Linked DNA regions of Homo sapiens. The protein of the gene in region 1 purifies or fractionates together with the protein of each later gene. This does not show direct contact. Each region holds a gene or a part of one and is shown in the gene's direction. Other genes may lie near its edges.

What was found. The genes of interacting proteins can lie anywhere in the genome.
Region 2: the proteins of SNRNP70 (region 1) and DDX20 purify together in Homo sapiens (affinity purification with mass spectrometry; 5 studies listed by BioGRID and IntAct, with this or other methods). This does not show direct contact.

Annotation. Positions count from the first base shown.
Region 1 is NC_000019.10:49,088,294-49,095,450, forward strand, and holds part of SNRNP70 (U1 small nuclear ribonucleoprotein 70 kDa), read left to right. Parts: intron 1-1,997; coding exon 1,998-2,060; intron 2,061-2,172; coding exon 2,173-2,227; intron 2,228-7,157. UniProt on the Homo sapiens protein: Component of the spliceosomal U1 snRNP, which is essential for recognition of the pre-mRNA 5' splice-site and the subsequent assembly of the spliceosome. SNRNP70 binds to the loop I region of U1-snRNA.
Region 2 is NC_000001.11:111,765,901-111,768,500, forward strand, and holds the end of DDX20 (probable ATP-dependent RNA helicase DDX20), read left to right. Parts: coding exon 1-999; 3' UTR 1,000-2,100; downstream 2,101-2,600.

The DNA of each region.
Region 1 (7,157 bases):
CCGGGTTCATGCCATTCTCCTGCCTCAGCCTCCCGAGTAGCTGGGACTACAGGTGCCCGCCACCACGCCTGGCTAATTTTTTGTATTTTTAGAGATGGGGTTTCACCGTGTTAGCCAGGATGGTCTTGATCTCCTGACCTTGTGATCTGCCCACTTTGGCCTTCCAAAGTGCTGGGATTACAGACGTGAGCCACCGCACCCGACCTTTTTTTTTTTTTTTTGAGATGGAGTATCGCTCTGTTGCCCAGGCTGGAGTGCAGTGGCGTGATCTAGGCTCACTGCAACTTCCACCTCCCGGGTTCAAAGGATTCTCCTGCCTCAGCCTCCTGAGTAGCTGGGATTACAGGCACGCGCTACCATGCCTGGCTAATTTTTGTATTTTTTGTAAAGACGGGGTTTCACCATGTTGGTCAGGATGGTCTCAAACTCCTGACCTTGTGATCTGTCTGCCTTGGCCTCCCAAAGTGCTGGGATTACAGGCATGAGCCACTGCACCCTACCAGCCAGTTCCTATTTAATGTGTGGTTGATGAGACCTTTAAGAGCTGCCTTGGCCCTCAGAGGGTGTGCAGTTGTGGGCTTTGGAGCCCTGTTCTGTCAGCTTATGTTGCTTTAGGCCTGGTCATCCTCACTGGCACTCATAAGCAGGGCCCTGCCATCACTCCACTCCCATCACATCCTCTGGCACTTTGTTCAATGTGAGTGATACTTGGAGCTGTGAGAAGCAATGTCTTTCCTAAATATGGAAGACAGGGTGTTTCCTAAATACTATAAAGCTAGATGTCACCTGTACCAGTGCTTTTCAAACTGTCTTTGGTGAAGGACAGATACTGTTTCCAATCTGTTTGCTTTTGATAAATATGATAGAATTACTTTTTAAAGAAAGATCTACAGTCAGGAGTTCAAGACCAGCCAGGCCAACATGGTGAAACCCTGTCTCTACTAAAAATGCAAAAACTAGCCAACATGCTGTCGTGTGCCTGTAATCCCAGGTACTCACTCAGGAGGCTTAGGCAGGAGAACCGCTTGAACGATTCTAGTCAGTTGCTGGGTTCCTTTTAGAGAGACGGGCACAGGGGGGAAAGCAGGGCTTAGAATCGCTTGAACCTGGGAAGCGGAGGTTGCAGTGAGCCCAGATCGCGCCATTGCACACCAGCCTGGGCAACAGACCACAACTTCGTCTCAGAAAAAAAAAAGACCTACAGAATAAAAGACCAAATTTGTATTAAGAGTCAGTGGACATCAAATTGTGAAATTACTGTAGAAGTTCCTGAACACTTAGTCCTGGTTTCTGTACTTATCACAGTCCAGCAACAGTTTAGATAGTACTGGTCCATGGACCATGCTTAGTTTTTGAGACAGGATTTTTTTTTTTTTTTTTTTTTTTTGAGACGGAATCTTGCTCTGTTGTGCAGGCTGGAGTGCAGTGGTGCGATCTCGGCTCACTGCAACCTCCGCCTCCTGGGTTCATGCCATTCTCCTGCCTCAGCCTCCCGAGTAGCTGGGACTACAGGCGCCCACCACCACGCCCGGCTAATTTTTTGTATTTTTAGTAGAGGTGGGGTTTCACCATGTTAGTCAGGATGGTCTCGGATCTCCTGACCTCATGATCCGCCTGCCTCGGCCTCCCAAAGTGCTGGGATTACAGGCGTGTGCACTGCACCCGGCCTTTACACCTGGCTAATTTTTAAATTTTTTGTGGAGATGGTGTTTCACTGTGTTGTCCCAGGCTGGTCTGAAACCCCTAGGCTCAAGCATTCTCCCTGTGTCATCATCCCAAAGTGCTGCGATTACAAGTGGAAGCCACTGTGCGTGGCTGCAGACCTTGCTTTGATCTGTGCCACTCCCCTCCCTCCACTGTGTCAGGGGAAGTGTGCGTGGATGTTTATTTTTGTAGGGGGTGGGGGTGGGAGGGTTAACCTGTTTATTTCCTTGGTGAGTGTCCCTTGCCATTTCCCCCAGTCCTTCCCACCCTGTCACCTCTCTTCTTGTTCCCAGGACCCTCGAGATGCCCCTCCTCCAACTCGTGCTGAAACCCGAGAGGAGCGCATGGAGAGGAAAGTATGTCATTTTTGCTTCCTGACCCCCTGTTTTACCACTGTCTCCAGATGATCCTTGACACTAGGGCACTTCTATCTGCATTCACTTCTCCACCTCCCCTTTCTCCTGACAGAGACGGGAAAAGATTGAGCGGCGACAGCAAGAAGTGGAGACAGAGCTTAAAATGTGTAAGTCTCTCATCCACCATTTGGCTCTCTCCTCTCCCAAACCCTCTGTATTCTTCCCAGGTCATACCCAGGACCCTGCTGTCTCCCTAAGGCCTGTGTTGTGGGGAACAGGGTTGTTAGTTCATTTGTTTAGCCCCTGCCACTTCACAAGCACTGTTTTTGGTTTAGGCTTTTCAGCAGCAGAACATAGGGTAAAAGTTGGCAGGAAGGGAGACCCCTGGTACCTTGGGCTCCTCCTGCATGGGAGGACAGTTAAGGGGCTCCCACAACCCAGCTGGGTGTCACAGGCTGAAGTGGTGGGTTGTGGGATAGTGGTCTGTCCTGGCTCTAACCTTAGGTCCCCAACCCTTGGGCTGAGGATGTTCCATCCCCTCCACATAGAGGAGGAATTGGAGTACAAGACAGGTGTGTTGTTGCCATTAACCAAACTCATAAGAGGGTCAGATGTCAACCTCCAGTGGCTCTTTATTCTGAAAGTGAAAACTGTACAGTCACAGGCAGCATAGCAGTGTTTCACTCAGCAGGGGACCGTGGATGTGATGGTGATCCTATAAGATTATATCATATTTTGCCAGGCACTGTGGCTCACGCTGTAATCCCAGTACTTTGGGAGGCCGAGGCAGGCGGATCATGAGGTCAGGAGTTCGAGACCAGCCTGGCCAGCGTGGTGAAATCCTGTCTCTACTAAAAGTACAAAAATTAGCTGGGCGTGGTGGCGAGCGTCTGTAATCCCAGCTACTCGGGAGACTGAGGCAGGAGAATCTCCTGAACCCAGAAGGCGGAGGTTGCAGTGAGCCGGGATCGCGTCGGCTCACTGCAACCCAGCCTGGGCAACAAGCAAAAATCTGTCTTAAAAAAAAAAAAGATTATACCGTCTATTTACTGTACCCTTTCTATGCTTTGATAACGTTTAGATGCACAAATACTTACTATTGTGTTAGGATTGCTGTAGTATTTGGTGTAGTAACACGCTTGGCCTCGGAGCAGTGGGACGCACCCTCTAGCCCAGGAGTGTTAGGTATGCTGTCTAGGCTCGTGGAAGTGCCATCTCATGTTGGCATATCGACATCATCATCAAACGACGCACTTCTCAGAACATGACTCTAGTGAGAAGACAGGTTTTCCTCCTATACCTGTGAACTTTGATGAATCCCTTTCCTCCAAATCCTGGAGTGCAGGATTTCCTCACGGTGCTTACGCAGAAGCGTGACAGAGACATCTGGCGGTGCACTCTTTGGACATTGGCTGTCGGAACGCTGTCTTGATGTCCTGCCTCAGAGGCATCTCAGACTCAGTGTCCAAACCACAGGGGTTTTCCCTCGCCACCAACCTGGTTTCCTTTGGGTGTTTTCTCTGGGACATAGACATTCAGCTGTGCCGGTCATGACCTCATTTTTTGCCATGCAGTTTGTTTCTAACACCTTTTCTAACCTTTTGCTCAGCCTCTCACCAAGACCTATTTGTGTTATTTTCTAAATGTCACAAATCTGACCCTTCTTTTCATGTCCATCATCACCACCCAGGTCACCTCTTGCCTAGACAACACAGTCACAGTCTTAACTAGTTTACCTATGTCTTTTTGTTTGTTTGTTTGTTTGTTTGTTTTTTGGAGGCAGCCTCGCTCTGTCGCCAGGCTGGAGTGCAGTGGTGCAATCTTGGCTCACTGCACCCTCCGCCTCCCAGGTTCAAGTGATTCTCCTGCTTCAGCCTCCCAAGTAGCTGGGACTACAGGCGTGCGTCACCACGCCCAGCTAATTTTTGTATTTTTAGTAGAGGCGGGGTTTCAGCATGTTGACCAGGATCGTCTAGATCTCTTGACCTTGTGATCTGCCCACCTTGGCCTCCCAAAGTGCTGGGATTATAGGCATGAGCCACCGTGCCTGGTCACCCCCCTCCTTTTTTTTTTGAGACGGAGTCACGCTCTCTCAATCAGGCTGGAGTGCAGTGGTACTATCTTAGCTCACTGCAACTTCCGCCTCCTGGGTTCAAGTGATTCTCCTGCCTCAGCCTTCTGAGCAGCTGGGACTACAGGCGTGCGCCACCATGCCCAGGTAATTTTTGTAATTTTAGTAGAGATGGGGTTTCACCATGTTGGCCAGGCTGGCCTCGAACTCCTGACCTCAGGTGATCCACCTGCTTCAGCCTCCCAAAGTGCTGGGATTACAGGCATGAGCCACCGCAGCCGGCCTAGTTTGTCTATATCTTAACCAACCACATCCACTGTGGGTCTTCTTTTTTTTCTTTTTTGGAAAAACTTTAAAACTGAGACGGGGTCTCACTATGTTGCCCAGGCTGGTCTTGAATTCCTGGGCTCAAGTGATCCTCTTGCCTCAGCCTCCCTCAGTGCTGGATTACAGGTGTCAGCCATTGTGCTCAGCCTCTTTTTTTTTTGTTGTGTTTTGTTTTGTTCTTAGGGACAGGGTCGTGCTGTGTTGCCCAGGCTTTACTGCCGTGGTGCAGTCATAGCTCACTGCAACCTTGAATTCCTGGCCTCAGGTGATCTGTCTGCCTCGGCCCCCAGAGTGTTGGGATTTCAGGTGTGAGCCACCATGCCCAGCCAAAAGTGTTTTTCATTTTTTGTTTTTTGTTTTTTAGATGGAGTTTTGCTGTTATTGCCCAGGCTGGAGTGTAGTGGTACGATCTAGGGTCACTGCAACCTCTGCCTCCCCGGTTCAAGCGATTTCCCTGCCTCCTGAGTAGCTGGGATTACAGGCATGCACCACCATGCCTGGCTAATTTTGTATTTTTAGAGACAGGGTTTCTCCATGTTGGTCAGGCTGTTCTCGAACTCCCGACCTCAGGTGATCTGCCCGCCTCGGTCTCCCAAAGTGCTGGGATTACAGGGCGTAGCCACCACACCCGGCCAGAAATGCTTTTTAAAAACGGTTCCACCCGGGCGTGGTGGCTCACGCCTGTAATCCTTCAAGGCAGGTGGGTCACCTGAGGTTGGGAGTTCGAGACCAGCCTGGCCAACATGGTGAAACCCTGTTTCTGCTAAGAATACAAAAATTAGCCCGGCGTGGTGATGTGTACCTGTAATCCCAGCTACTCGGGAGGCTGAGGCAAGAGAATCCTTTGAACCTGGGAGGCGGAGGTTGCAGTGAGCCGAGATCACGCCATTGCACTCCAGCCTGGGTGACAGAACAAGATTCCATCTCAAAAAAAAAAAAAACAAAAAAAAAAACAGTTCCAGGCCAGGCACGGAGGCTCATGCCTGTTGTCCAGCACTTTGGGAGGCTGAGGCAGGCAGATCACATGAGGTCAGGAGTTCAAGACCAGCCTGGCCAACATGGTGAAACCCCATCTCTACTAAAAATACCAAAACAAAAACAAAAACAAAAACAAAACAAAACCTAGCCAGGCATTGTAGTGGGCTCCTGTAATCCCAGCTACTCGGGAGGCTGAGGCTGGAGAATTGCTTGAACCCGGGAGGCGGAGTTTGCAGTGAGCAGAGATAGCGCCATTACACTCCAGCCCGGGCAATAAGAGCAAGACTCCTTCTCAAAAAACAAACAAGTAAGTTCCAATTGGGCGAACAAAAAAGTTCCAATTGAGGAATTTGAACACTGGATCATAGATGAGGTTAAGGAATTAGTAAATGTTAACTCTAAGATGTAATAGTGGCACTGTGGTTATGATGTTTAAAAGCCTTTGTTAGAGACCAAAATGGTGTGCTATCTGGAATTTCATTTAAAATAATCCAGCCGGTCGTGGTGGTTCACGCCTGTAATCCCAGCACTCTGGGAGGCTGAGGTGGGAGGATTACTTGAGTGATCCAGGTTCGAGTGGTGAATATGGTGAAACCCTGTCTCAACTGAAAATATAAAAATTATCTGGGTGTGGTAGCAGGGGCCTCTAATTGCAACTACTTGGGAGGCTGAGGCAGGAGAATCACTTGAACTCAGGAGGCAGAGGTTGGGGTGAGCTGAGGTCATGCCACTGCACTCCAGCCGGGGTGACAGAGCAAGACTCCGTCTCAAAAAAATGCAGTGGGCTGTGGGAGGATAGGGATGAAACAAGTCCGTCCACGTGTTGATAATGGAAGCGGGCTCATGGGAGTTCGTTATACTGCTCTGCCTCCATTAAATGCTTGAACTTCTCCATAATAGAAAAGAAATAAAAGAATGGATCAAGTTCAGTAGGGTTTCTGTGCCCTTGAGAGCCTCCACTCATAGCTATAGAAGCTTGCTGTGCCTTGTCACAATGAACAGCTCCCGTCAAGGGGACGGTGCCTCCTTGCTGAGCGCTTGTACTTGGTGTTACTGACTTTCTCACAGCTTCCAAGTGCAGCAGGGGTTGCTACTCCCATTTTTAAGATAAAGAAATGGAGGCTTGTTGAGGCAAGCACGCTTCCAAAGAGTGAGAGTTCCAAGATGGGACCTCGAGTACCTCAAAGCCTAATTCCCAACTCCACGACCCACTTCCGTTGAGTCTCTGCTCTGGGCTGCTACTTAGATGAGCCCTCAACCAGTGATGTCCTGAGGGAGAGCTGCCGTCAGGGCGCTGCACGCATACGCTGGCTGTGGGGCGCTGCCCGGCATTGGGTCTGTGCTACCTTCTTTGAGCTTTTGTTCTCTATCTTCAGGACTTGGGGGTACCATTGCTTTGCTGCATTTGCTTTTTACCTTTAGTCACATTTGTGGCCCCCCCACCCCGGGTAAGCAAGTGCTCCAGGGAACTCACACAGTGTGCTGGGGTGGTTTCCCTCTGGCTGCCCTTCAGGAAGCTCAGCTGTTGTTTGGCCTTCGTCCACTCCCCAGCCCTGCAGCATTCATTGGTCCCACTGTCATGCTCCACAGTAACTGTTAGAATGCCTGCTGTCTGGCGTTGCCGGGTGTGTTTCCTTGCTGCTGTGACAGCTTTCAGCTCTTCATTAAATGTTAGCATCTTGTGAGGCTTTTTCTAACCTGCCTTGTAAAGTCACCCGTTT
Region 2 (2,600 bases), on another chromosome or scaffold:
ATGGCTTCCTCTAGAAATAATTCTGTATCTGGACTATCAGTCAAATCAAAAAATAATACCAAACAAAAGCTTCCTGTGAAAAGCCACTCAGAATGTGGAATCATAGAAAAAGCAACGTCACCAAAAGAACTGGGCTGTGACAGGCAATCCGAAGAGCAAATGAAGAATTCTGTTCAGACTCCCGTTGAAAACTCCACCAACAGTCAGCACCAGGTCAAAGAAGCTTTACCTGTGTCACTCCCCCAGATTCCTTGTCTGTCTTCCTTTAAAATCCATCAGCCATACACGTTGACTTTTGCTGAATTGGTAGAGGATTATGAACATTATATTAAAGAGGGGTTAGAGAAACCTGTGGAAATCATCAGGCACTACACAGGCCCTGGGGATCAGACTGTGAATCCTCAAAATGGTTTTGTGAGAAATAAAGTTATTGAACAGAGAGTCCCTGTGTTGGCAAGTAGTAGCCAATCTGGAGACTCTGAGAGTGACAGTGATTCTTACAGCTCAAGAACCTCTTCCCAGAGCAAAGGAAATAAGTCATACTTGGAAGGCTCTTCTGATAATCAGCTGAAAGACTCTGAATCTACGCCTGTGGATGATCGTATTTCTTTGGAACAACCACCAAATGGAAGTGACACCCCCAATCCAGAGAAATATCAAGAATCACCTGGAATCCAGATGAAGACAAGACTTAAAGAGGGGGCTAGCCAGAGAGCTAAGCAGAGCCGGAGAAACCTACCCAGGCGGTCTTCCTTCAGATTGCAGACTGAAGCCCAGGAAGATGATTGGTATGACTGTCATAGGGAAATACGTCTGAGTTTTTCTGATACCTATCAGGATTATGAGGAGTACTGGAGAGCTTACTACAGGGCATGGCAAGAATATTATGCTGCCGCTTCTCATTCATATTATTGGAATGCTCAGAGACATCCAAGTTGGATGGCAGCTTATCACATGAATACCATTTATCTACAAGAAATGATGCATAGTAACCAGTGATTATAGGATATACCTGAGACCATCAGGAACTGTCAACAAATGATACCTTTGGATATCCATCCTCCTCGACTTATAGTACAGTGGTGTATAGTGGCATTTCTGATAAACTTGAAAAGACTTGAGTCTTTCCACTGGGACACATCCATTTTTCAGATTGTTTTGATTTAGGCCAGGTATATTATCTTCATTTTTAAGAGTTTCTTTAAGAAACTTCATCAGATTGTTGAAAGATAATTTTTGGGACATAGAGCTGAAAGTTTCAGGGTGCCATTTTCTATAAGATCTTCCCAAAAGAAACATTTAAAAAGATGACATATACCACCACTTACTTAAAAACAATAAAAGCAATAGATTTGATTAGTAATATTATTGCTGTGGAGTTCTTTACAAAGGGCTTAGGCTGCATTTCCTTCTATAGAGGTGCATTCTTGTAGAAATTTGTAGCATGGTAGATCAGAAAATCCTCTTAGGTTTTAGGCAGGAAGGAATATTTAAACATTGCTTTAGATTTTCCTAAAGGTATTTGATTTGATCTGTTAGCTTCCAGTAAAAATATTTGTTTTTAGTAAAAACAAATTTAAATATATTTACATGTTTGTTGTTTATCTTTTGAATGTCTTTTGAGGCTGTGAAAGCTGTCCACATTTTTGCTGTGTATTAAATAGCTGTGGGTCATCAGTTGCTGTCTTACTTGTGTTGCTCAGATAGAGGAGCAGCTCTTAATCTTTTTTGGTTCTTGGATCCTTTTATGAATCAGCTGATAGCTATAGATTGACTTCAGGAAATTTCTCATTCCATAAGCACAGAATTGTGAGTGTAATTTCAAGGGGTTCATAGACCCTCTGAAGTTCATCTATACAGTCCAGATTAACAAGTGACCTGCTCTGCTGGTAGGCTAGGGGAAGTTCTAGCTCTTAGTTTTAAGTATTTTGTGGAAGCTGGAATTGATTCTCTTCAGACACTTCTTAGTACATCCTAATTTTGTGTCTTCTAGAAAATTTTCCCCAGTTTTTACCTCTAATGTTAGGATCCAAGAGGAGCTTGGATCTGAGCTGATGCATCTGTAAATTACGATTTAGAAAAATATAATTGGAAATTACATATTCTTTGCTTTTTTCCTCTGGAAATCCTTTTATGATTAAGCTTTTGGTTCCCAAGCCTTTCTGTGAACTGGATTTTTTATGAGAGAACCACTTGTGTAGAGAGATGTGTATTCACTTTTTAAAAGGAAAGCTCTTCTTTCCTGTGTACATACTTGTCTAGGTAGTATAAACACTTTCCCCAGGGCTGTCAGCAAACACCCACAGCCATTGTCATTTATTGTCCAACACCTACATAACACAATTCTAAAATCCTACTTAACTTGGATTCCTGTCATTTGGATTGGGCAATATTAGGCTTTTCTTACATGTGTCAGTATGTGAATTAATTAATAATGTAGATAGCAAATCCATAATTAGGTCCAGTATGTCATTAAGAAGTAGAGATTTTAATTACACATTTAAATAAGATCCTGTCATTGATATATAATTGAATTTACTTTTTCCATCCTTTCCCCCACAATACAGCCAAGTTCAGTTTGTCATTGCTGGGGGATTTTA